Linked DNA regions of Homo sapiens: regions 1, 2, 3 and 4 are each linked to region 5. Evidence: fine-mapped expression QTL. A gene starts in region 5. Each other region holds a variant in brackets. All regions are shown on one strand. Distances are between the middles of the regions. Region 1 overlaps LOC124904185 (a long non-coding RNA gene). Region 2 overlaps LOC124904185 (a long non-coding RNA gene). Region 3 overlaps LOC105378741 (a long non-coding RNA gene). Region 4 overlaps PLPP3 (phospholipid phosphatase 3). Region 5 holds the start of PLPP3 (phospholipid phosphatase 3).

What was found. PIP is the estimated chance that this variant, and not a neighbour inherited with it, causes the effect. A credible set is the group of variants that fine-mapping cannot tell apart.
Region 1: its variant is the best candidate, but not a certain one, in a credible set for the expression of PLPP3 in whole blood (TOPMed, PIP 0.79).
Region 2: its variant is the best candidate, but not a certain one, in a credible set for the expression of PLPP3 in whole blood (INTERVAL, PIP 0.56).
Region 3: its variant is the best candidate, but not a certain one, in a credible set for the expression of PLPP3 in lung (TOPMed, PIP 0.55).
Region 4: its variant is the best candidate, but not a certain one, in a credible set for the expression of PLPP3 in prefrontal cortex (ROSMAP, PIP 0.83).

What each region holds. Positions count from the first base shown.
Region 1 is chr1:56,422,346-56,426,469 of GRCh38, forward strand. All of the region lies in intron 1 of LOC124904185 (a long non-coding RNA gene), which reads right to left. Among named protein-coding and RNA genes, the nearest start is that of LINC01767, 9.4 kb to the left of the region's middle. The variant A/G (reference allele first, on the strand shown) is at 2,539.
Region 2 is chr1:56,466,184-56,470,334 of GRCh38, forward strand. All of the region lies in intron 1 of LOC124904185 (a long non-coding RNA gene), which reads right to left. Among named protein-coding and RNA genes, the nearest start is that of LINC01767, 53 kb to the left of the region's middle. The variant C/T (reference allele first, on the strand shown) is at 1,689.
Region 3 is chr1:56,104,516-56,108,666 of GRCh38, forward strand. The region is part of intron 1 of LOC105378741 (a long non-coding RNA gene); the gene reads right to left. Among named protein-coding and RNA genes, the nearest start is that of LINC01755, 160 kb to the left of the region's middle. The variant C/A (reference allele first, on the strand shown) is at 1,651.
Region 4 is chr1:56,528,105-56,532,104 of GRCh38, forward strand. The region is part of intron 2 of PLPP3 (phospholipid phosphatase 3); the gene reads right to left. Among named protein-coding and RNA genes, the nearest start is that of PLPP3, 49 kb to the right of the region's middle. RefSeq lists an enhancer at 3,219-3,954. The variant T/C (reference allele first, on the strand shown) is at 2,415.
Region 5 is chr1:56,577,384-56,581,516 of GRCh38, forward strand. It overlaps PLPP3 (phospholipid phosphatase 3), which reads right to left and starts at 2,180. Exons shown (of 6, transcript NM_003713.5): 1 at 1,495-2,180. The coding sequence starts at 1,633. RefSeq lists an enhancer at 1-165.

The DNA.
Region 1 (4,124 bases), 160 kb before region 5:
CCTATCTTTTTACTCCCATTACAGTTTTGCTGTTTCTAGAATGGCATACACTTGGAATTGTACACTATGCAGCCTTTTCAGACTCTTTCTTCATTTAGCAATACACATTTAAGATTCATTCATATCCTCTCACAGCTTGATAGCACCTTATGTTTTGAATCATGAAATAGTATTCCATTGTGTATATGTACCACCATTTGTCCACCAATTCACTTATTGAAGGACATTTTGTTTCGTTGTTTTGTTTTGTTTCAGTTTTTGGCAATTATTAAAATAAAGCTGCTATAAACAATAGTGTGCAAGTTTTTGTTTGAACATTCGTTTTCAAATCAGTTGGATAAATACCTAGGAGTATATTGCTAGATCATAGAGAAGGATTAGATTTAGCTTTGTAAGAAACTGCCACACTGTTTTCTCAAGTGGCTATACCATTTTGCATTCCCACAAGCAATGAATGAAAGTTCCTATTGCTCCACATCCTCATCAGCATTGAGTATTGTCAGTGTTTTGGATTTTGGCCATTCTAATAGGTGTGTAGTGATATCTTGTGGTTGTTTTAACTTGCAATTCCCTAACGACAAATTATGTTGATCAACTTTTCACATGATTGTTTCCCTTCTGTACATCTTATTTGGTGAGGTGTCTGATTGCACCTTTTGCTCACTTTTTAATTGGATTGTTTGTTTTCTTATTGTTGGGTTGATATGTCTTTTGTATATATTGGATATAAGTCCTTTCTCAGACATGTGTTTTGCAAATATTTTCTCCCATTCTATGGCTTGCCTTTTGACTGTCTCAATAGTGTCTTTCACAAAGCAGAATTTTTTAATGTTAATGAAATCCAAGTTACCAGCTTTTTCTCTCATGCCTTGTACCTTTGGTGTTGTAGCTAATGGCTTATCAGCAAACCTTGAATGATTTTAAATACATTATCTTATGGAATTATTATACCACTGCTCTTGGGCAGGGGATGTCATTTTCATTTCATAGAAGAAACAGCTTTCTGTCACATTTATCTCTGCAGGACCTTGAAACAGGGAAAAAGAGAGAATGGGTAAGCACCAAGAGAGAATATATAGGCAAAAGTAGGCCAAGGCAAACATTAAGAGGCTTCAAAGCTCCCTGTTCAGCCTTAAAATTCATGAGCATTTGACTATCTCTTCCACTAAATAGCTGTATTTGTTTGAATGTAAATATTATATTATTATTGCCAAGGTACACACACACACACACAACCACCACCACCACCACCAATGTTTTGATAAAACTGGTGCTTCATTAGCAAATGCCATGTTTATTGATTGAGTGACTTTATATCCTCCAGCAGTGACACACTTCTCTCAGGAATATTTTTACCTCAGTTTGGAAAGCAAACTAGACTGAAGGAAAGGGCAAGGTTGAGCACCTTGTCAAATGTCACACAGCTAGCAAGTGGCCGACCCAGGATTTGAGTCCTGAGTAAGTACAGTATATCTGCCAGCATACAGTGTCTGTGTCCTTGACCAGACACAGCCTGGCTCAGGGAGGCTGACACCATCTCCATTTCAAGGAGGCACACTTCTCCCTTCACCATTGACCTGGCCTTCCTCTGGCCTTCACAGCCCCTAGCGTCATACCATATCATTTAGGCTTCCCTCTCTCTTCAAAGCATGAATTAGGAAAGGGGGGAAAGCAACCCCAGGATCTGTCTGTCACGAATGTGGGAAAGAACCAGCCCTAGGGGGATGATAAAGACCTTGAAAAAAACAAACAAAAAAAAAAACGATTTTTCTTTATAATAAAAAACTTTTTATACTCAAACAATTTTTTGCTGAAATAACAATGCACATCACAAAACCTATTGAGGGAATGTATAATTATGCCAAATTAAACTGTAGAAGCGTCTCCCTGGCCATGAGAACCATTTATTTCTTGGTTCAGTTGTGTTCGATGGCTGGGGCTGGAGTAGCCACTGTTCTAAAAGAAGGAGCTTCTTGAGAGAAAGAGGTCATTCTCTCAGAGGAATGGCCTTTGCCCTCCAGAGCTGGGATCTGACTGGCTCCTCTAGAAAAAGTGGGAGCTGCAGGCATGTCTCTGTGAGCACCTGACCACAGAGCCTAGCACTGGGCCAAGCAGTCTCTTTGCCCCCACCCATCTCATCTGGATTGTATGCATTCAGCAAACATGCCCATGTATTGGGCATGAACCCCCCAACTCTACCCTCCTCCTAAGGGCTCAGTGGCCTTAGAAGTGTTCCGTTTGTCCCACATGCTGTCCTGGAGTCCAAGCCCTAAATTCAAGTCTCTTCTGCAATGATTAATTCTGTGATCTTGCTTGACATCTCTGCACCACTTTCCTCCCATCCATCTGTGAAACACGAGAGAGGGGCTTCCAGGTGGGCATGGAACAGGATGCTTTCACCTACATCATTTTAAGGAGATTGCTATTCTAGCAGAAAAAAATGACAAGGAAGTGACTATATCATCAAGACGAGTCTTTGAAGCTTACTGCAAAATCTTCATGTCCTTTGGCGGTGAATGTTTCCTCTCAAATGTATGT[A/G]AATTTGCTATGCTATGCACAATGTGCTAACTCAGTCAGTGTGGATGCCCTTTCCTTCCCTTTTTTTGCAACTGCTTCAGAGAACCCCACCCACTTTTGTATGCCTCACTGCCTGGGACAAGGCAGCTTTACCCTGTGCCCCATTTAAGCCCTGAATCTCAATGCATCTTCAGGGAAACCTTCAGAGTGACTGCTGCCATTCACTTTTCAAAGACCCCAAAATGGGGCTCCAAGCCTCAGTCCAATCAGCGTAACTAAGGGAAGGAGCTGGAACAACAAGGATTGTGGGAGATTAACCAGCTCTCCCACTGAGAGGCCAGGCAACCTATGTTACTAAATCCTTCTACCGGATTAAGCCAGAGCCCACAGATCACCCACAGGCTTGAACAGATGTGACACAACGGGGCACTTTCTGGGCCTTGGTCCAAGGAAAGAGCTAAAAGTAGATGGTGCATGGGCACAAGGCACTTGTCACTCTCTCCCTTGTAGAGGCAGTGGGCCGTCTCAGAAAGAACATGAGTCAAAAGACCTGGTTAGCCCAGCTTGGCCATGTGCCAGCTGTTTGACCTTGAGTGAGTCACTTCACTGCTCTGGGCCTCTGTTCCTTCAATGGAAAAATGGAGCTCATCATATGGATTTCACAGTCATGAAGGATTCTGAAATAATCAATCCAAATTTTATTTCTTCAAAGACCATCAAAATGAAACATGAATGGGATTGTCTCTGGCAGGATAAAGGCCTGGCTTTAAGGATGAAACATGTCTGTGGCTTCCCTAACTCCTCCCCTCCTTCCTCAGTGCTCCTCGGTGCCTTTCACATGCTTCCCCCATAACACTCTGCTTCAGGAGTTCCTCTCCTATAATTCGGCTTCTCGGAAACAGGGATTCTGCAACATTTATCTCTGCTTTCCCACACCTGGCCACACATGGGTTCCTAAATATGTATATCCAACTAAATGCACTTTGTAAATGATGCAACCCTCTGATGATTATCTACAGTCTAGGAGGGGAAATGGAACATATCCATAGATATTAACATATCTGTCAATATTAGCATATCAATGAGCATATCTATCAAAATATTCCATTTTCCCTCCTAGACTGTAGATACTTTGAGAGCAGGGGTCAGACCTACTTTATCCATGTATCTACCACAGCGCCAAACTAGACACACAGGTAATGTTCAGTCAGTATATGTGGAAAGCAAGGAGAAAGATGGGTATGTGAAAAGCAAGGAGAAAGATCTGAAGGGGAGAGAAAGAAATAGAAACTCCCCCTCCCCAACAGCAGCAGCTAACCCAGCCAGTTCACCTACCCACTCAGCCACTGGGCAGACCCATACTCTCACTCCTCTTCCTGAGACCAGAATTGAGATTGTTTTTAGTCTTCCTGGCCCAAAACTACAAAATCCACAAGGGCCAGCTATAATTTTTCTTTCCACCAAGATTTTCCTGTATGATGTCTAAAGACTCAACAGTCACCCAAAGGTTCTGATTGCAACGGATCGTCAGGGTTACAGATCCCCTGTAGAATTTCTCTACTAAGATGGGTGAGAAGAAATCATCTTCCATTTGTTTGCCCTAGACA
Region 2 (4,151 bases), 110 kb before region 5:
ATCCCCATGACCTACTTCAGGGCCACATGCTTTCTTACCTGAGCTCTTACATTAGTCACCTAATTAATCTCCCTCTTCTCACCCAGACCCCTTCTGCCACCATGAGGATTCTGACTCTCCCTCTGCTTAAAGGCAAATCAGGTGCACCCCATACCTATCAGATAAAGCCCAAATTCTTCAGCCTGGCATGCCATGCCTTTTGTGACTTTTCCCTGCCCGCTTGTCATCATTCATCTTTCAGCCATTCCTGCTCTGCCTTCATCCTCCACAAAAATACACTATTATTATTTATGGTTCCACAAATATATTATGTTCTCTCAAGTCTCCCTACCTTTGCTGGGGTTATTTTCCCTGCCAGAATTGCTTCCCCCATCCTCAAATCCATCCGATTTGTATCACTCTGCTTGGGTTGCCAAAACAAAATACACAAACTGGGTAGCTTAAACAACAGAAATTGATTCCTTCACAGTTCTGGAGGCTAGAAGTTCATGATCATGGTGTCAGCAAATTCAATTCCTGCTAAGGGCTCTCTTCCTGGCTTGCAGACAGCCACCTCCTCCCTATGTCCTCACAGGGACTTCCTTCTTTGTGCAAGTGTCTTTGGTGCCTCTTCCTTTTATTTTAAGAGCACTATTAAATTAGGGTTATAATTAAAGTTAAATGTGACCTCATTTAACCTTAACTATCTCTCTAACAGCCTTATCTCCAAATGCAGTCCCATTAAGAGTTAGGGTTTCAGCATATGAAGTGGGGCAAGGGAATGATTAAGCCTGTAACACTTCTATTATAGCTTTTATTTTTATGTATTCAGTTTATTTGTTTTCAGCTGGGCTCAGTGGCTCACGCTTGTAATCCCAGCAGTTTGGGAGGCCGAGGCAGGCGGATCACCTGAGATCAGGAGTTGGAGACCAGCCTGGCCAGCATGACGAAACCACGTCTCTACTAAAAATACAAAAATTAGCCAGGCACAGTGGTGGGCACCTGTAATCCCAGCTGCTTGGGAAGCTGAGGCACAAGAATCACTTGAACCTGGGAAGTGGAGGCTGCAGTGAGCCGAGATCGTGCCATTGCACTCCAGCCTGGGTGACAAAGCAAGACTCCATCTCACAAAAAAAAAAAAAAAGAAAGAAAAAAGATTATTTGTTTTCACATCTGTCTCTTCCACTGGCTTCTGAGGGAACCTGGAACGCCTTTGAATCTGTAGCTCAGTGAGGGTCCATCTAGATTTTGTGAGACCCATCCTCCCTACCCCAGGCTTACAAAATGCGGTAGGCCCTCATTGGGAAAAAGATTAAAAATTAGGTATAAGGTGAATTTAGAAAGGTCCCATGCAAGTGAAGCGCCCTGGAGTTCAAGCCTCGGAGCTTCATACTTTATCTGTCTCTGGGCTCAGTAAAGATGTGTCACAATAAAAAGCTTCAACAGCCTCAATATGTACTAGAAAGACTGGATTTAAATCCAATCTCTCATCTCCCTTTGGGCAGGTGAGTTCATTATCTGCACATTGGTATTTCTGCATATGTAAAAATGAATTTATAATACCTGCCGTGTTAAGGTTGTTTTGCACTGAAGATGTATTTAGGTAACCTGAAAATATACCAAATATTTGTTTACTTGCTTATTGTCTGTGTTCCCCACCACAGTCTAAACCCCATGAAGAAAGAGACTTTGCCTTCGTCATTGCTGAA[C/T]GCCTCTTGTCTAGAATAATGTCTAGAAATTGTTGGGTGTTCAATGAATGTTTATTGATTGAAACAATATAGTACCTCCTCATATCTGAAACAATGGTGCCTGGTATCCATTGATAGGTTAAGTTCTCCCAATTTTAACTCTTACTATTATTAATAAATTTTAGTTAAATGAGTAATAAGGAGAAAGAAAATACAAATATCAGAAGAGATAAAAACCACTCATAGACTCTGGAGAGCAAAGTAAATCAAATTTCATATGATCCGAAATGTTTTCAGACCTAGAATTTTTTTTAAAAATCTTTAAAAAAAAAAGATCGGAGGCTGAGGCAGGCAGATCACGAGGTCAGGAGATCGAGGCCACCTTGGCTAACATGGTGAAACCCCGTCTCTACTAAAAATACAAAAAATTAGCCGGGCGTGGTGGCGGGCGCCTGTTGTCCCAGCTACTCAGGAGGGTGAGGCAGGAGAATGGCATGAACCCAGGGGGTGGAGCTTGCAGTGAGCTGAGATCGCGCCACTGCACTCCAGCCTGGGCGACAGAGAGAGACTCCATCTCAAAAAAAAAAAAAAAGAAAGAAAGAAAAGCAAACAAAGGAACAATGCACACGTATCCACACAAGGAACACCGAAAATCCTTCAGGCAGTAAGTTGAGTAAAAGATAGGAAAGCCCCAGAAATTTGACATGGCTTCACTGGTGACCAAGACAGCATATTTATTCATTGTTCAGCAGCTCCCTTCTTATTCTCCAAGGAGTGGAAAGCGTTGCTGAGTTCTGGACGAAAGCCTCTCCCGTCAGCTGTTTAAGAGCATTGCTGTCATTAGACAACCTCAAATCATGTCAAGCCCCAGTCTCTGCCAGCACCGAGCTGAAAAGCCAATCCTCCAACTTAGCTCTGAACTCTTCACCCCAATCAATTAAGAGCGATCCCATCAAAAACCCCAAATAAGTTTGCTTGGCCTGACCTTGACGATTCTAGTTAAAGAGACATCGCTCCTCCTGGAAGAATCTATCATTTTTAAATGGCTCACATGATGGCTGAGGAATTCAGGGAGAGTTAGACTGAATCCCAGCACCCGAGAGCTGAGAGAGACCTCGGCACTCAGAGTCCATTTTTCACTACAGAAGAGGAAACTGAGGCTCAGAGACAGCGACTACCTTTCTTGAGGTCATATAACTTGGCGATTATTGTTGTGAAAATGTATTCCTTACACCAGTCAGAATGGCTATGATTAAAAAGTCAAAAAACAACAGATGTTGGTGTGGATGTGGAAAAAAGGGAATGTTTATACACTGTTGGTGGGGAAGAAATTAGTAAACTAGTACAACATCTAGGAAAAACAGTATGGAGATTTCTCAAAGAACTAAAAATAAAATTATCATTTGACCCAACAACCCCACTACTGGGTATCTACCCAGTACTTGTACCTGTATTTGTATGTCTATTGCAGCACTATTCTCAACAGCAAAGTCATGGAATCAACCTAAGTGTCCATCAGCAGCTGAACTGATAAAGAAAATATGGCTGGGTGCGGTGGCTCACACCTATAATCCCAGCACTTTGAGAGGTTGATGTGGGTGGATCACTTGAGGCCAGGAGTTTGAGACCAGCCTGGCCAACATGGTGAAATCCCATCTCTACTAAAAATACAAAAATTAACCAGGCCTGGTAGTGCACACCTGTAATCCCAGCTAGTCGGGAGGCTGAGGCAGGAGAATCACTTGAACTCAGGTGGTGGAGGGCTGCAGTGAGCTAGCTGAGTTCACACCACTGCACTCTACCCTGGGTGACAGAGCAAGGCTCTGTCTCAAAAATAGATGTATATGGTACATATACGCCATGGAATACTACACCACCAATTAAAAAGAATGAAATCATGTCTTTTGCAGCAACATGGATGGAGCTAGAGGCAATTATCTTAAAAGAAATAACTCAGAAACAGAAAACCAAATACTGCATGTTCTCACTTACAAGTGGGAGCTAAAGAATCAGTACACATGAACATCTAGAGAGTAATAACAGAACTAAGGGCTCCAAAAGGGGGAAGCGTCAGAGGAAGAGAGGGTTGAAAAATTACCTGTTGGGTACAATGTTCACTGTTTGGGTGACAGGCACCCTAAAAGTCCAAACCCTACCACTACACAATATATCCATATAACAAACCTGCACATGTACCCCTGAATCTATAAAATAAAACTTTTTTTTTAAAAAAGGATTATTTAGCTTTCTATTCAGTTCATTAATCATCACACTTGACCGTGCCAGTGACTGACTCATGATTCAAGAAGAGCTTGCTTCCACTTCCCAGAACTTGTTCCAGTTTCTCATTCTGCTTCCTATGCACTGTGTGAACTTGGACAAGTGACTTCACCTCCTGAACCTCAATTTTCATCCTTCAAAAGATGCGATAATAACATTTATTTCACACGTGTGTTATCAAGAGGAAATGAAAAAGCATTTAAT
Region 3 (4,151 bases), 470 kb before region 5:
TTATTGGGTGACTATGTGTGTCAATGAACAGTAATATTTTTAAAGTATTTTTTTCTGAGCAGTAGGTCTCAATAATGGCATTAAAATATTCAGTAAACCATACTATAAACAGATGTGCTATTATCCACACTTTTTTGTTACATTTCTAGAGCACAGACAAAGTAAAGTTAGCATAATTTTGAAAGGCCATAGGATTTTCAAAATGGCAAATGAGCAATGGCTTTAATTTAAAGTTTCCATGTGCAGTAGCCTTTGACAAGAGGGTCAGCCTCTCCTTTGAAGCTTTGAAGCCAGGCATTGACTTTTTCTCTCTAGCTATGAAAGATGGTATCTTCATCCAATAAAGCTGTTTTAATCTACATTGAAAATCAATTGTTTAGTGTAGCCACCTTCATCAATAATCTTAGCTAGATCTTCTGGATAACTTGCTGCAGCTTCTACATCAGCACTTGATGCTTCACCTTGCCCTTTTATATATGAAGATGGCTTCGTTCTTAAACCTCATGATCCAACCTCTGCTAGCTTCCAACTTTTCTTTGCAGCTTCCTTACCTCTCTCAGACTTTACAAAATTAAAGAAAGTTAGGGCCTTGCTCTGGATTAGGCTTAGACTTAAAGGAATGTTGTGGCTGGTTTGATCTTCTATCTAGATCACTCAAATTTTCTCCATATCAGCAACAAGGTCATTTCACTTTCCTATCATTTGTGTGTTCACTGGAGGAGAACTTTTCATTTCCTTCAAGAACTTTTTCTTTGCATTCACAACTTGGCTAAACATTTGGCAGAAGGTGCCTAGTATTCAGCTTATCTTGGCCTTTAACATGGTTTCCTCACTAAACTTAATTATTTCTAGCTTTTGATTTAAAGTGAGAAACATTAGGCTCTTTTTTTCACTTGAACACTTAGAAGCCATTATAAGGTTATTAAATGGTCTAATTTCAACGTTTCCTCTTAGAGAATAGGGATACCTGAGGAAAGGAAAAGAGACAGAGGAACAGGTGGTTGGTGGAGCAGTCAGAACACACACATTTATTGATTAACATCACCGTCTTATATGGGTATGGTTTGTGGTGACCCACAACAATCCCAATAGTAACATCAAAGGATCACTGATCACAGGGAGATTGAGTGACTTCTGTCCTGGTGAGGTAACAACAGAAAGAATCCCCTCCACCAAGAAGGCTGCCCTTCCCAAATCCTCCTCAAATTGGCCTGCGTGGTAGTCTCCCAAGATATTTCTTTTCCTCCTTAGTGATATACAACTTTTGTTCATTTTGGTCATAGGAGAAATTCCAAGAAATAAGAGAGGTAAGTTGAAGTGACTGACAAAGGATGGAATGCCACAGCTGTTGAGGTTGAGAGGTAGGCTCAGCAGTCCACCCTTGTGTGATCTTGAGCAAGCTCAGTGACCTCAGAGCCTATGTTTCTCACTGGTTAAATGAATATAACACAGGTGGCTGGGGAAAATTGTGGACAGGTGACAGGACTAACGTGCAGCTCCCACTTGGATGGACAGAACAGTGTGTGGAGACTCACACTGTGAAGTTTTGCTCCAAGAACCACTGCAGGGACATACCAGGAAAACCAAAAGAATTCACAGACCCTTTGAAAGAAGCAGTTTGCCACTATGAACTCCCGAGACAGCTGAAAA[C/A]CTGTGAGTTCCCAAAGTGTGAGGGGGGGAAAAGTCCACTTTGAATTCTTATCCCCATTGAGGAAAATGGAAATCCAGATCATAGGAGAAGAATTTAACCTTACCTAAAGCTGAAATGGATATAGGGAGCCAAGTGAAATATAAAAGCAGAAGCAGCAGAAGGAAGAGCCCTGTAGGCACTCCTGGTCATCAGCTCGAGCCCAGGAAAGCCATCCCTGGCTTTATTACCTCAAAGGGGTCCTTGGAGAAAGCAGCCAGTGAAATTGGGCAGGGGCCACAAGGTGAAGGAAGCTTCTAGTTTATTACAATTAAATTTTGTAATAACTTTGACTGAGCATGAATTTTCCTGAGTAGAATCTGGGTTTGAGGGGGGCAGACAGGAAGTGCAGATACAAGCACAGAAGTGACAGTTGATGGTGAGGGCAGGTGGGGAAAGGAGAGGACTGAGAGCCCTGCTTGCTTTCTCAGAAGGGAGGCTTGTAGCCTTGGGCAAAATATCAGCCCTGCTCACAGGCTGCCTGGATATAAACTTGGTGCTGTTAGTGGGGCACAGTGAGAGTGAGACTGGCCTTGCTGGCTGCGTGGGAACTAAGTGAGGCCTGTCACTGCCGGCTTTTCCCCACTTCCCTGGTGACCTGTATGACATAGCAGAGGCAGCCATAATCCCCCTGGGAACATAACTCCATTGGCCTGAGAACCAACACCCATCCCCCACAGTGGCCACATCAAGCCCTGCTCAAGGAAAGTCTGAGCTCAGACCTGCTTAACCCTGTCCCCAACTGATGGTTTTTCTCTACCTGCCCTGGTAGGCAAAGCAAAAGACATGAACACTTGGGAACTCTATGGCCCTGCCAATTGCCTGAGAAACCCAAGTACTTATCCTGGCCAATGTAGGACAAGCTTATATCCCCCTTCTATTACCACAGTTGGTGCTCTCTTCAAAGTGCCACCTCCTGGCTGGAGGCCAACTAACTCAAGCCATTACAGCAACTCAAAACAGAACAACTCTGCTACAAATAAGGAAAAAACAACAGTTAATTCTACTGCCTGCAACACCATGGCTAATCAGAGGTCCTGAGTCTATCTGTGTGACAACTTCACTGCTAGCATAACCAGCATTCAAGAAAACCAGTGCACTAAACAAAACTACAACCAAGGACTCCCACAGAGTCCACTTCACTCCCCTGCCACCTGCACTAGAGCAGGTGGGGGTATTCATGGCTGGGAGACCTGAAGACAGATCACATCAGAGGACTCTTTGCAGACATTCTCCAGCATCAGCCAGGAGCCCAGGAGCCCCAGTGGGTAGCTAGACTCAGAAAGATAAAAACAATTGCTACACTCTGGCTCTCAGGAAACCTGGTCATGAAGGGAAGGAGGAGAGCACCACATCAAGGGATCACCCCATGGGACAAAAGAATCTGAATGGCAGTCCTTGAGTTTTAGATCTTTCCACTAAAACTGTCTACCCAAATGAGAAAAAATCAGAAAAGTAATTCTGGTAATATGAGAAAACAAGGTTCTATAAAACCCTCAAAAATCACACTAGCTCTCCATCAGTGGATCCCAACCAAGAAGAAATCTCTGAATTGCCAGATAAAGATTCATAAGGTTGATTATTAAGCTACTCAAAGAGGTACCAGAGAAAGGTGAAAACCAACTTAAAGAAATAAAAAAAATACATGATATGGATGAAAATGTCTCCAGAGAAATAGATATCACAATGAAAAGACAATTGCAACTTCTGGAAATGATAAATTCACTTAGATAAATGCAAAATACACTGGAAAGTTTCAACAATAGAATTGAACAAGTAGAAGAAAGAACATCAGAGCTCAAAGACAAGGCTTTTGAAGTAACCAAATCTGCCAGAGACAAAGAAAAAAGAATTTTCAAGAAATGAACAAGGCTCCAATAAATTAGAGATTATGGTAAATGACCAAGCATAAGAATAATTGGTGTTCCTCAGGAAGAAGAGAACTCTAAAGTTTGGAAAACTTATTTGAGGGAATAATTGAGGAAAATTCCTTGCTCTTGTTAGAGATCTAGACATCCAAATACAAGAAGCTCAAAGAACATCTGGGAAATTCATCACAAAGAGATCATTGCCTAGGCACATACTCATCAGGTTATTTAAACTCAAGACGAAGGAAAGAATCTTAAGAGCTGGGAGGCAAAAAGGAAAACCTATCAGAGTAAGAGCAAATGTCCCAACAGATACCCTACAAGATAGAAGGGATTGGAGTCCTATTTTTAGCCTCTTTGACAAGATAATTATCAGTCAAGAATTTTGTATCCAGTGAAACTAAGCTTCATAAATGAAGGAGAGACGAAGTCTTTTTCAGACAAGCAAATGCTGAGAGAATTTACCACTACCAAGCAAACACTACAAGTAATGCTAAAAGAAATTTGTTTCTAAATCTTGAAACAAAACCTCAAAATATACAAAAATAGAGCCTCCTGAAAGCATAAATCTCACAGGGCCTATAAAACTATAACAC
Region 4 (4,000 bases), 49 kb before region 5:
CAGCAAGCAACAGATTCTGGGGGTGATGGCAGGCTGCCAGGCAAGCAGAGAATTCTCCCCTACCTGCCTTTTAAAGCACTTGGCACAGAATCTGGAAACTAATAAAATGGGAAAGCATTGCAATTAAGCTACAAGGGGACAGAAAGGGATCAGTCCTTGCCTGAGAAGGGCTGCAGTTTGGAGAGAGGTTGGCTCCAACTGCAAGACAGCTCCTCTTCCTGTCTTTTCTGGTGAAAAAGAGCTCAACTGCCCACATATTTACAAATATTTAACTGTTATGGAGAGGAAATATGAAGAAAAATTAGGATAGATTTTTGGGAAAAGATAGAGCAAGAGGTGGTGAAAGAAGCAACAACGTTGTAGCCAGAAAAACCTGTCTGAATCTTGTCTATTACCTTAGGCATGTGACTTTACCTCTCTGGGCTTAGATGTCCTCATCTATAAAATAAGGTTAATAATATCTATGTGGCAGGATTGCCAGGGAATTAGATAAGGTGATATGTCAATCGCCTGGCACCTAGCAGGAGAGCCCTCCAAAAGTTAACTTTTTTCTTCCCTCCATTGAAGAGGAAAGCAAACAAACAAATAAAAAACATGTTTTGTAGAGAGTATCTCTTCCAAGAGCTCCTTGGACGATACCATACCTAAATGAAGAGTTTGGAAATACCACCCCTCCAGGGTAGGACCAGAAAATGTATGTATGGATGACATTGCTTTTGATCATTTTATCTAGTATGTATTTTTCAGCAGATCAAGACAGAAGCAAAGTCTAAACCCAAAGCAGAAGGGACAACCCTACTCTACTGTTTTGTGTTATTTTTAACATTCCACTCTATTTGTAAATTATCCCAAGAAAAGTAATATTTTTGCACAGCAGCCTAACAATCTCTTTCAGAGACTGAGAACTCATCTTCCACCGCTGAGTCTGAAGGACAAACTTTCCTATACTCTGATCTGCTTTAATAATATTGGCTTAGTACTTTACAGCTTTCAAAGCACTTTCACATCCACTATACTGTTTGCTTCTCACAACACCATATGAATTACTAAATTATTACCAACACTTATATAAATGAGTATGATGAAGGCCAGAGAGGGCAGTGAATCACTCTGATAAAAATGAGACAGCAAGAAGACCATCACTGAAGCTGGGGCTTCCTCCTTCTAATTCCTGTGCTGTTCCCAATGGCATCGAGCTGGCTTTCTCTTAGAAGTCCTACTAGGCAGTAGTATGTATGTCTCCAGAGAGACATATGTTCACAGAACACCCAGTAAGGGCCTGCCATCTTGAAAGGCACCTGCACCTCTAAGTTCCTGCTAGCCACAGAGGGTCAAGTTGTTCTTTTACATCTCGGTTACATGAATTGATGAACTTCTTTTGCCCAGAAAAGATTAATTCAACAAACTGTTGATGATGGAGAATCGTGAAGGGAGAATCACATTTCTCACTTTAGTTCTCAGTCCCAAAGGAAAGGAAAAATATAATGTACTGGGTCCTGTTTCTAAGGATGGAGACAGATGTATGGCTGTATTTTCTCTGGCACTGACTGCTCCATCTACTGCAATAAAGTGCAGCGTCTTTAGTAACTAGAAATAGTTGATTGGAAATTTATTCTCTGATTCTTCTGTCACTTGGTTATCATCTTCAGCCTTTTTCAGAAGATCAGTGCCTCACTGTCTGGGAAAGGTAATGAAGACATAGATCTGTCCAAAGACACCAGTATAATTTCTGGGCTTTATGGGTAAGTCAGAACTCCAATATCTAGAATAAAGACAGCAAAGAGGCCAGAGAGGGGCTACAGAAGTTATTTATGGTTGAAATTAGCAGTGGCTGCCCTGTGCCCACAAGTCTCATGAAGAAGAGAGTCTGAGGCATAAAGCATCATTGTTTTCCCAAAAGTCAGGGACTCAGAGTCATGGGCCTCCTGAATGCCCAACTCTGCCAGTCCATGCAAGAATCTCCTGGCTGTTCTTTCTGCAGCATTGCCTACTGCAACCTCTTACTCTTTTTTTTTTTTTTTACCTTGAATTTCCTAGGCTTCCTTAATATCACACCACCATGCTTTTGTTACTATTTCTAAATGTATGTCTGCTTCTTCTAGTGGTTCCACATCTGACTTCTACCCAATAAATGTGGGTCTTCCCTAGGATTGTGTTCCTGGCTTTCTGCTGTGATCTCAGCTGCTTCAATAGCTTCAATTGTTACCTCTGTGAAGATGACCTTCAAAAGGGCATCTCTCTGTCTCTCTCTAGCTTCAGCCTACCCCTTTCCCCTAATTGGCCCAATTCCAATCTTCTGCTAACTCTCCCACCTGGAGATGTTAGTACCATTTCAAATTAACCAAGTCTAAGGTCACACCCATTCCCACTCCTGTCCCAAACTTCACTTCTCTTCCCTCTAGTTCTGCTCAAGA[T/C]GCCACCAAGCATATGACTGACAAAGATGTGCAATCTTAGACTCCTTCCTCTCCCTTATCCCATTGTCCATCCGGCTTTTGCAAGGTCTTTTGCATCCATCTTTTTCTATTTCCCTTGCATTGCCACCACTGTGGTTCAGGCCTCATCTTTACCTTAATTAGAAAATTGACCAAGCTCACTTAAAATACTCTCATCAACCTCTAGCCAATTAGCTGGAGTAAAAATTCCTCAGCATTCAAGGGTCTTCACGATCTTGCCACAATCTTCTTTTCCTGCTGTAACCTTGTCTACTCCCTTATATTCCATTCATTCAGCCAAACAGGTCTGCTCTACATTCCCTGAAAACACTTCATTGTTTTGAAGTCTCTAAAATGGCTGAAGCCACTCCTTCTGCCTAGGTCAGGTTCTCTGACGAAAATCCTACTTATGCCTTAAAGTAGAGCTCAAGTGCCAACTAGTGTTCTGGGTTAGAGTTTGGCTCTTTGACTTATGAGTCTTGTACAACTGAGCTCTCTAAGTCTCAGTTTCCTTATCTCTAAAAATGAAGATGATGACAGTATCAAAAGCAGGGTTGTGGTGAAAATTATATGAGACGAGTGCTCAGTGAATAATGATGATGATGAAGCCTTGGCATAAGCCTTAGCCTTAAGTGCTCTTCCTCTGAACTCCCATAGCACTTTATTTAGACCTCAGACAATCTGCAGCATCTGATATGTTTCGTCCTTGAAGCTCTCCCCTCCCTAGCAGCCACCACCATGCACTGCCCTGACTCTCCTCTTATTCTCAGACTAATTATTTCCTTTCCTTGAGGGTCTAATCCTATAGTCAGACTTGTACTTGTCTTGAATTCCCTTTAAACCATAAGATCCAAAGGCAAGATCTGTATTTTACACATCAGCTTATAGGCCAAGGTGCCTACCACAAAGCCTGCTTGCTATAAGGGAGGTATCACCCGGCACCTACCTACACACAGCAGGTGATCACCATCTCTACAAACCATTGATGCACACTGTCAATCTTGGGCAGTCATCTGCCCAGTGGTCTAGATGTTTTATCTTCCTCCATACATTTAACTCTCCAAGCCCAGTAACTAAAAGCTTTTATAGCTAACTAAATAAAGAGCACTCTACATAGCACCGACCAGAGTGGGCCTTCATTAGCATCTGTTAAAGCACTTAGGCTTGAAAGCCAAACAGATCTAGGTTTTAATTCGTGTTCCCCCATTCACTAAGCAGAGTAACCTCGGGCTAGTCACTTCAACCTTATAAGCCTCAGTGTCCTCCCTCATTTGTCAAATGTGGTAAATAATAGCAACCTCACATAGCTGTTGAAGAGGATTTAAGATAAGACATGAGTTTCTGGTCCATTAAATAGCTCATAAATGTTATCTGACTCTCCACCCCATCCCCAACACACACTGCCCCTCACAGAAAGTATTTCTCGGCCTCCTAAGCATTATGACTTCAAATGGAGCATATCATCACCTCCGTATTGATACGTTTTTCAAATAGTCATGAATCCCTAAGAGCTGTACCTAACTAAGGAAGAATTGCTGCTGTTCTCACTTCTTCCAGGACATGAGAGT
Region 5 (4,133 bases):
CTGAACTACAGTGACTTTTCTTCCTTTCCACCCCTCCACCCTTCCACAGAGCACAATTATACCTTCAGCTGTCTCTTCTTACCTGAAGGGGGCCGTTCTTATTTTTAAACTCTAAGAATCCTATCTTTCTTTACTATGGACCATCAAGAGGACACTGCACAGTAAGAGCAGTGCTACAGAAAGAGTCATGAATACCAGAGAGGTATAACTCCAGCCTAAGAAGTCTCTGGTCTGCAAAATCTGCATGGACAAATCCATTTCAAAGGGGACTTAAGTCTGTGCAGGAGCTGTATTTTAAGGGAACTGAATTGGGAACACAGATGTTTCTTCAGTTAGCAGAGTTGGCAGAACAGCTTCTGGACCAAATCCGAGTTCCTAATGCGGGAAGGGGCCTTGGAGAGCATCTACTTCAACCCACTCATTCAACTGCTGAGGAAACTGAGGCCCATGAGGCAGTTAAGTGGCACACCCAGCAAGTGGCAAGAGTGGCAGTGTTCTGATGACAAGTACTGTGCGTTTTCCATTACACCATGATTCGCTTTAAAAAAAAAAAAATCCTAGGCTGACTTCAACCTTGGAAGTCCTGTTCATTCTTGTGAAGCGCTTTCTCCCTCCCCTACCGAGTTCATAAATCCTCCTCGCCCTCCCACTCCAATTCCTTTAACTCCCACCGCTCTTCCAGCTGTGGCTTCCAACGACTTTGGAAAACAGAAGTGGACCATCGCCTCAACTTTCTGGGGGCGCAATTAAATTTGTGGTCCCCAAACAAGATCGCAGCTGGCTTTCCCAGTGCCTCAATGTGCCCATCAGGGAAATGGGGCTCATCACCCCTGCTGCACCGAGTCAGAGAGTGGGCGAGCTAAAACTGATGCCCCTGAAGCCGCCTACCACCTGGCACACAGTAGGCACTCAAGTGATTGCTGAAGCCGTGCCCAGCACCAAGCCCGGGGAAAGCACCTACAGGAGAGGAGCAAGTGAAAAGGCCGGCTAGCCAGTCTGGCGAGCCTGGGCAGCAAAGGCGGAAGGGCTGGATGTTTACATACAGCCGCCGGGAAGGCAGCTCGGCTCCAGGCAGGAGCCCGACTCTCGGGGCGATCCATTTCACTCGGATGGAGGGCGACCAGCTAGCTATACGCTGGCTCTAGAGCGCGGCTCAACCAACTTCCCCTACGCTAAAAGGACGAACCCACACCTTCCGCGGGATTCCGCCCGGGCTTCCAACGTGGAGACGACTTTTACTGAGCTGGTTTAACAGTTGCCCACGAACGCTTAAGCACGCCCAGACCCACTCAAGTACAGGCCAAGAAGTCGGTGGGATCGGGGAGGGCGGGGGCTTCGGGCCTGGGCGGCGCAAAGGCTCCCCAGGAAGGCTGCGGGGGCCCCCCGGAGCTGACGGCGCGGCGCGGCGCGGCGCTGCGCGGCCCCGGACTGGGCTGGGACGCGCGCCGAGGGACGAGGGGCCGAGGGGCCGAGGGACAGCGGGGCTGGGCTCACCCATGAAGAGGCAGAAGAGGTCGAGGCAGATGAGCAGCACCCGCTTGCTGCCGCTCCTCCTCGGGTTGTTGTTGAGCGCCGGGCTGCCGCCGTTCTTGCTCTCCGGGACGATCGCTTTGTCGTACTTGTAGTTTTGCATGGCGCTGGCTGCGGCGCGAGCCTCCCGCCCCGCGAAGACGTCCCGCAACAGCAGCCACACACCCAGGCGCCCGGGTCGCCTCCTGGCCGAGGCTGCTGCGGATAGTGGCGGGTCGGCCCCGGCTCCGGGCGCGGCGGCTAGAGTGCAGCCGGGGCTGCCTGCCTCCAACTGCAGAAGGTGGTGTTTTCTGCTCCTCCTGCGCGCCTCTGCTTTCCTCTGTCAACCCTAAATCGTTCTAAAGTCCAAGGGGAAGAGAGCCAGATCCCGAGCAGAAACTTTTGCAGAGCTGCGCAGCTTGGGGCGCGCTGTTGTGGCGCGCGTCTGAGTGCGCGAGCGAGCGAGTGGGCAGCGCGGGCGCTCGGCCACCTTCCTCCGCAGCTGGTTCCTTAATGAATGGGAGCTGCGCTGAGCCCAGCAACTCCGGAGCGCCAGCCCCAACTCTAACTTTGCCTCCTCCTCCTCCTCCTCCTCCGGCTCCTCCTGCTCCTCCTGCTGTTGGTGCTGCTGCCGCGGCGGCTGCTGCTGTGATCGCCTGGGTTTGTTTTCTGCACTTTTATTTCACGAGGTCCTTTAAAAAGAGAAGACGTGGGGGGAGAGAGAGAGAGGGACCTCCTTACTTGGCTCGGATGGGATTCCGAAAGCACAGCCCCTTCCTTAAGCTGCCTAAGACGTAGGATAATTAAGGCCACATTTTCCCCCACCCCCTTCAAAAAAAAAAAAAAAAGTCCTAAAAGGAAAAGTTACTCTCAAACCAGAGAAACCGGGAGCCCCTAGCGTTCAGAAACACCAAATTGTCACCAAAGAAAAAATATATATAAATAAAAAGAAACATTTTCTTGCTGGCCTTGGGTCAAGTAAAAGTTAGGGCTGTACAGCTAAAATGCATTTTTCCTCACCTACAAACCTGAGGCTTTCAGGTCTTTATTGTGACTTGAATTGTATTACCCTGAAAATATAATTTTTAAGGAAAACAAGTTGTTTGTTTGTTTAAGATCTTAACATCCAACACCGGGTACTACGCTAGATTTTGAGAATACTAAAATGAAAAAGACTGCACGACTGTGGAACCACATCTCCTGGATTTCAATCCTGTGACTCTGTGCCTCAGTTTCCCCGTATGTAACTAGAGATAACTGTTCCTTTTCATATAGGGTGGTTGTGAAGACTTAATTTGTTAATCCGTATAAGCTCCTAGAACAGTGCCCAGTACATAGGAAGTGCTCTGTGAGGGTTAGCAATTACCTTTTTTCTGGGTGAAGGAGTCTCAGGCAACCCCTCTCTTGGCCCCAAGAGTAATTCTACTACTATGGGGAATTCCAGGGCAGCCAAAATGCTCTCTGCTTGAGTTTCAGACAATCTAACATTTTTCCTTAGAGGCTGGCATCTTATTTTTAATTATTTTATGTGAGTTAATCTTTTTTCCAGATAGAGAATAAACATTTCCAGGGCAAGGGCCTTCCCTTGTATCTTCTATAGTGCCTAGCATGGACCTGGGCACAGTGGACAATAAATGGATGTTTTTTCCAGGTGGTTCTTTGTGTGCATTCAGAAATGGAAATATTTGTAGCTTTTTGATACATTATATGAATCATGTTCTTTCTTACACTGACTTGTTTTGGGTTTTGATAACTTTATATGCAGCCACCATCAACCCTTTCTGGTACAATTGCCCTTTCTGGTACAATCCTTTCACACTCCACACCCCTGCTCTCCTGCACGCTCTGCCTATAATGCATACCCTTTCCTCCTCTAGTTAGGGAAATGCTTCTCTTGCTTTAGTATCCTCTGAAATGTCACCTCCTCTCTGAGTACTTTCTTCATTCCTGCACAGAATTAACTTCACTGTCAACTCTTTGCTTCTAACTATTTTTTTTTCCCCCGAGATGGCGTCTCACTCTATCGCCCAGGCTGGAGTGCAGTGCCTCAATCTTGGCTCACTGCAATCTCCGCCTCCCGGATTCAAAGGATTCTCTTGCCTCAGCCTCCTGAGTAGCTGAGATTACAGGCTCGTGCCACCACACACGGCTATTTTTGTATTTTTAGTAGAGATGGGGCTTCACCATGTTGGTCAGGCTGGTCTCAAATTCCTGACGTCATGATCGCCTGCCTCGGCCTCCCAAAGTGCTAGGATTACAGGCATGAGCCTATGTCAGCCTGATTTGGTGTTACAGATGGTAAAGACTAGCAAACTGTGTAGGTTATCAGCGCCGCGGCATCTCTCTAGTACCTAGCACGGGATTTGCTGTGTACTGAATTAAGCTCAAGTTAGCACCGGTTAGTAAGTGGGGCTTGCAAAGAAAGACAACATTGCTATCTTCTGGAAGCAAGAAGATCTGACTCTCCCAAGAAGTTTTGGAGCTGAAGCATCCAACTGCAAATCACACACAGCACTCTCAATTCAAATAGCACAGGTAAAAGCCAGGGTAGTTCAGAAGGCAGATGCTTGAGATAGCTTTTTCTTGAGAAACACCTTCTCTTGAAAAGTTAAAAGAGTGGAAAC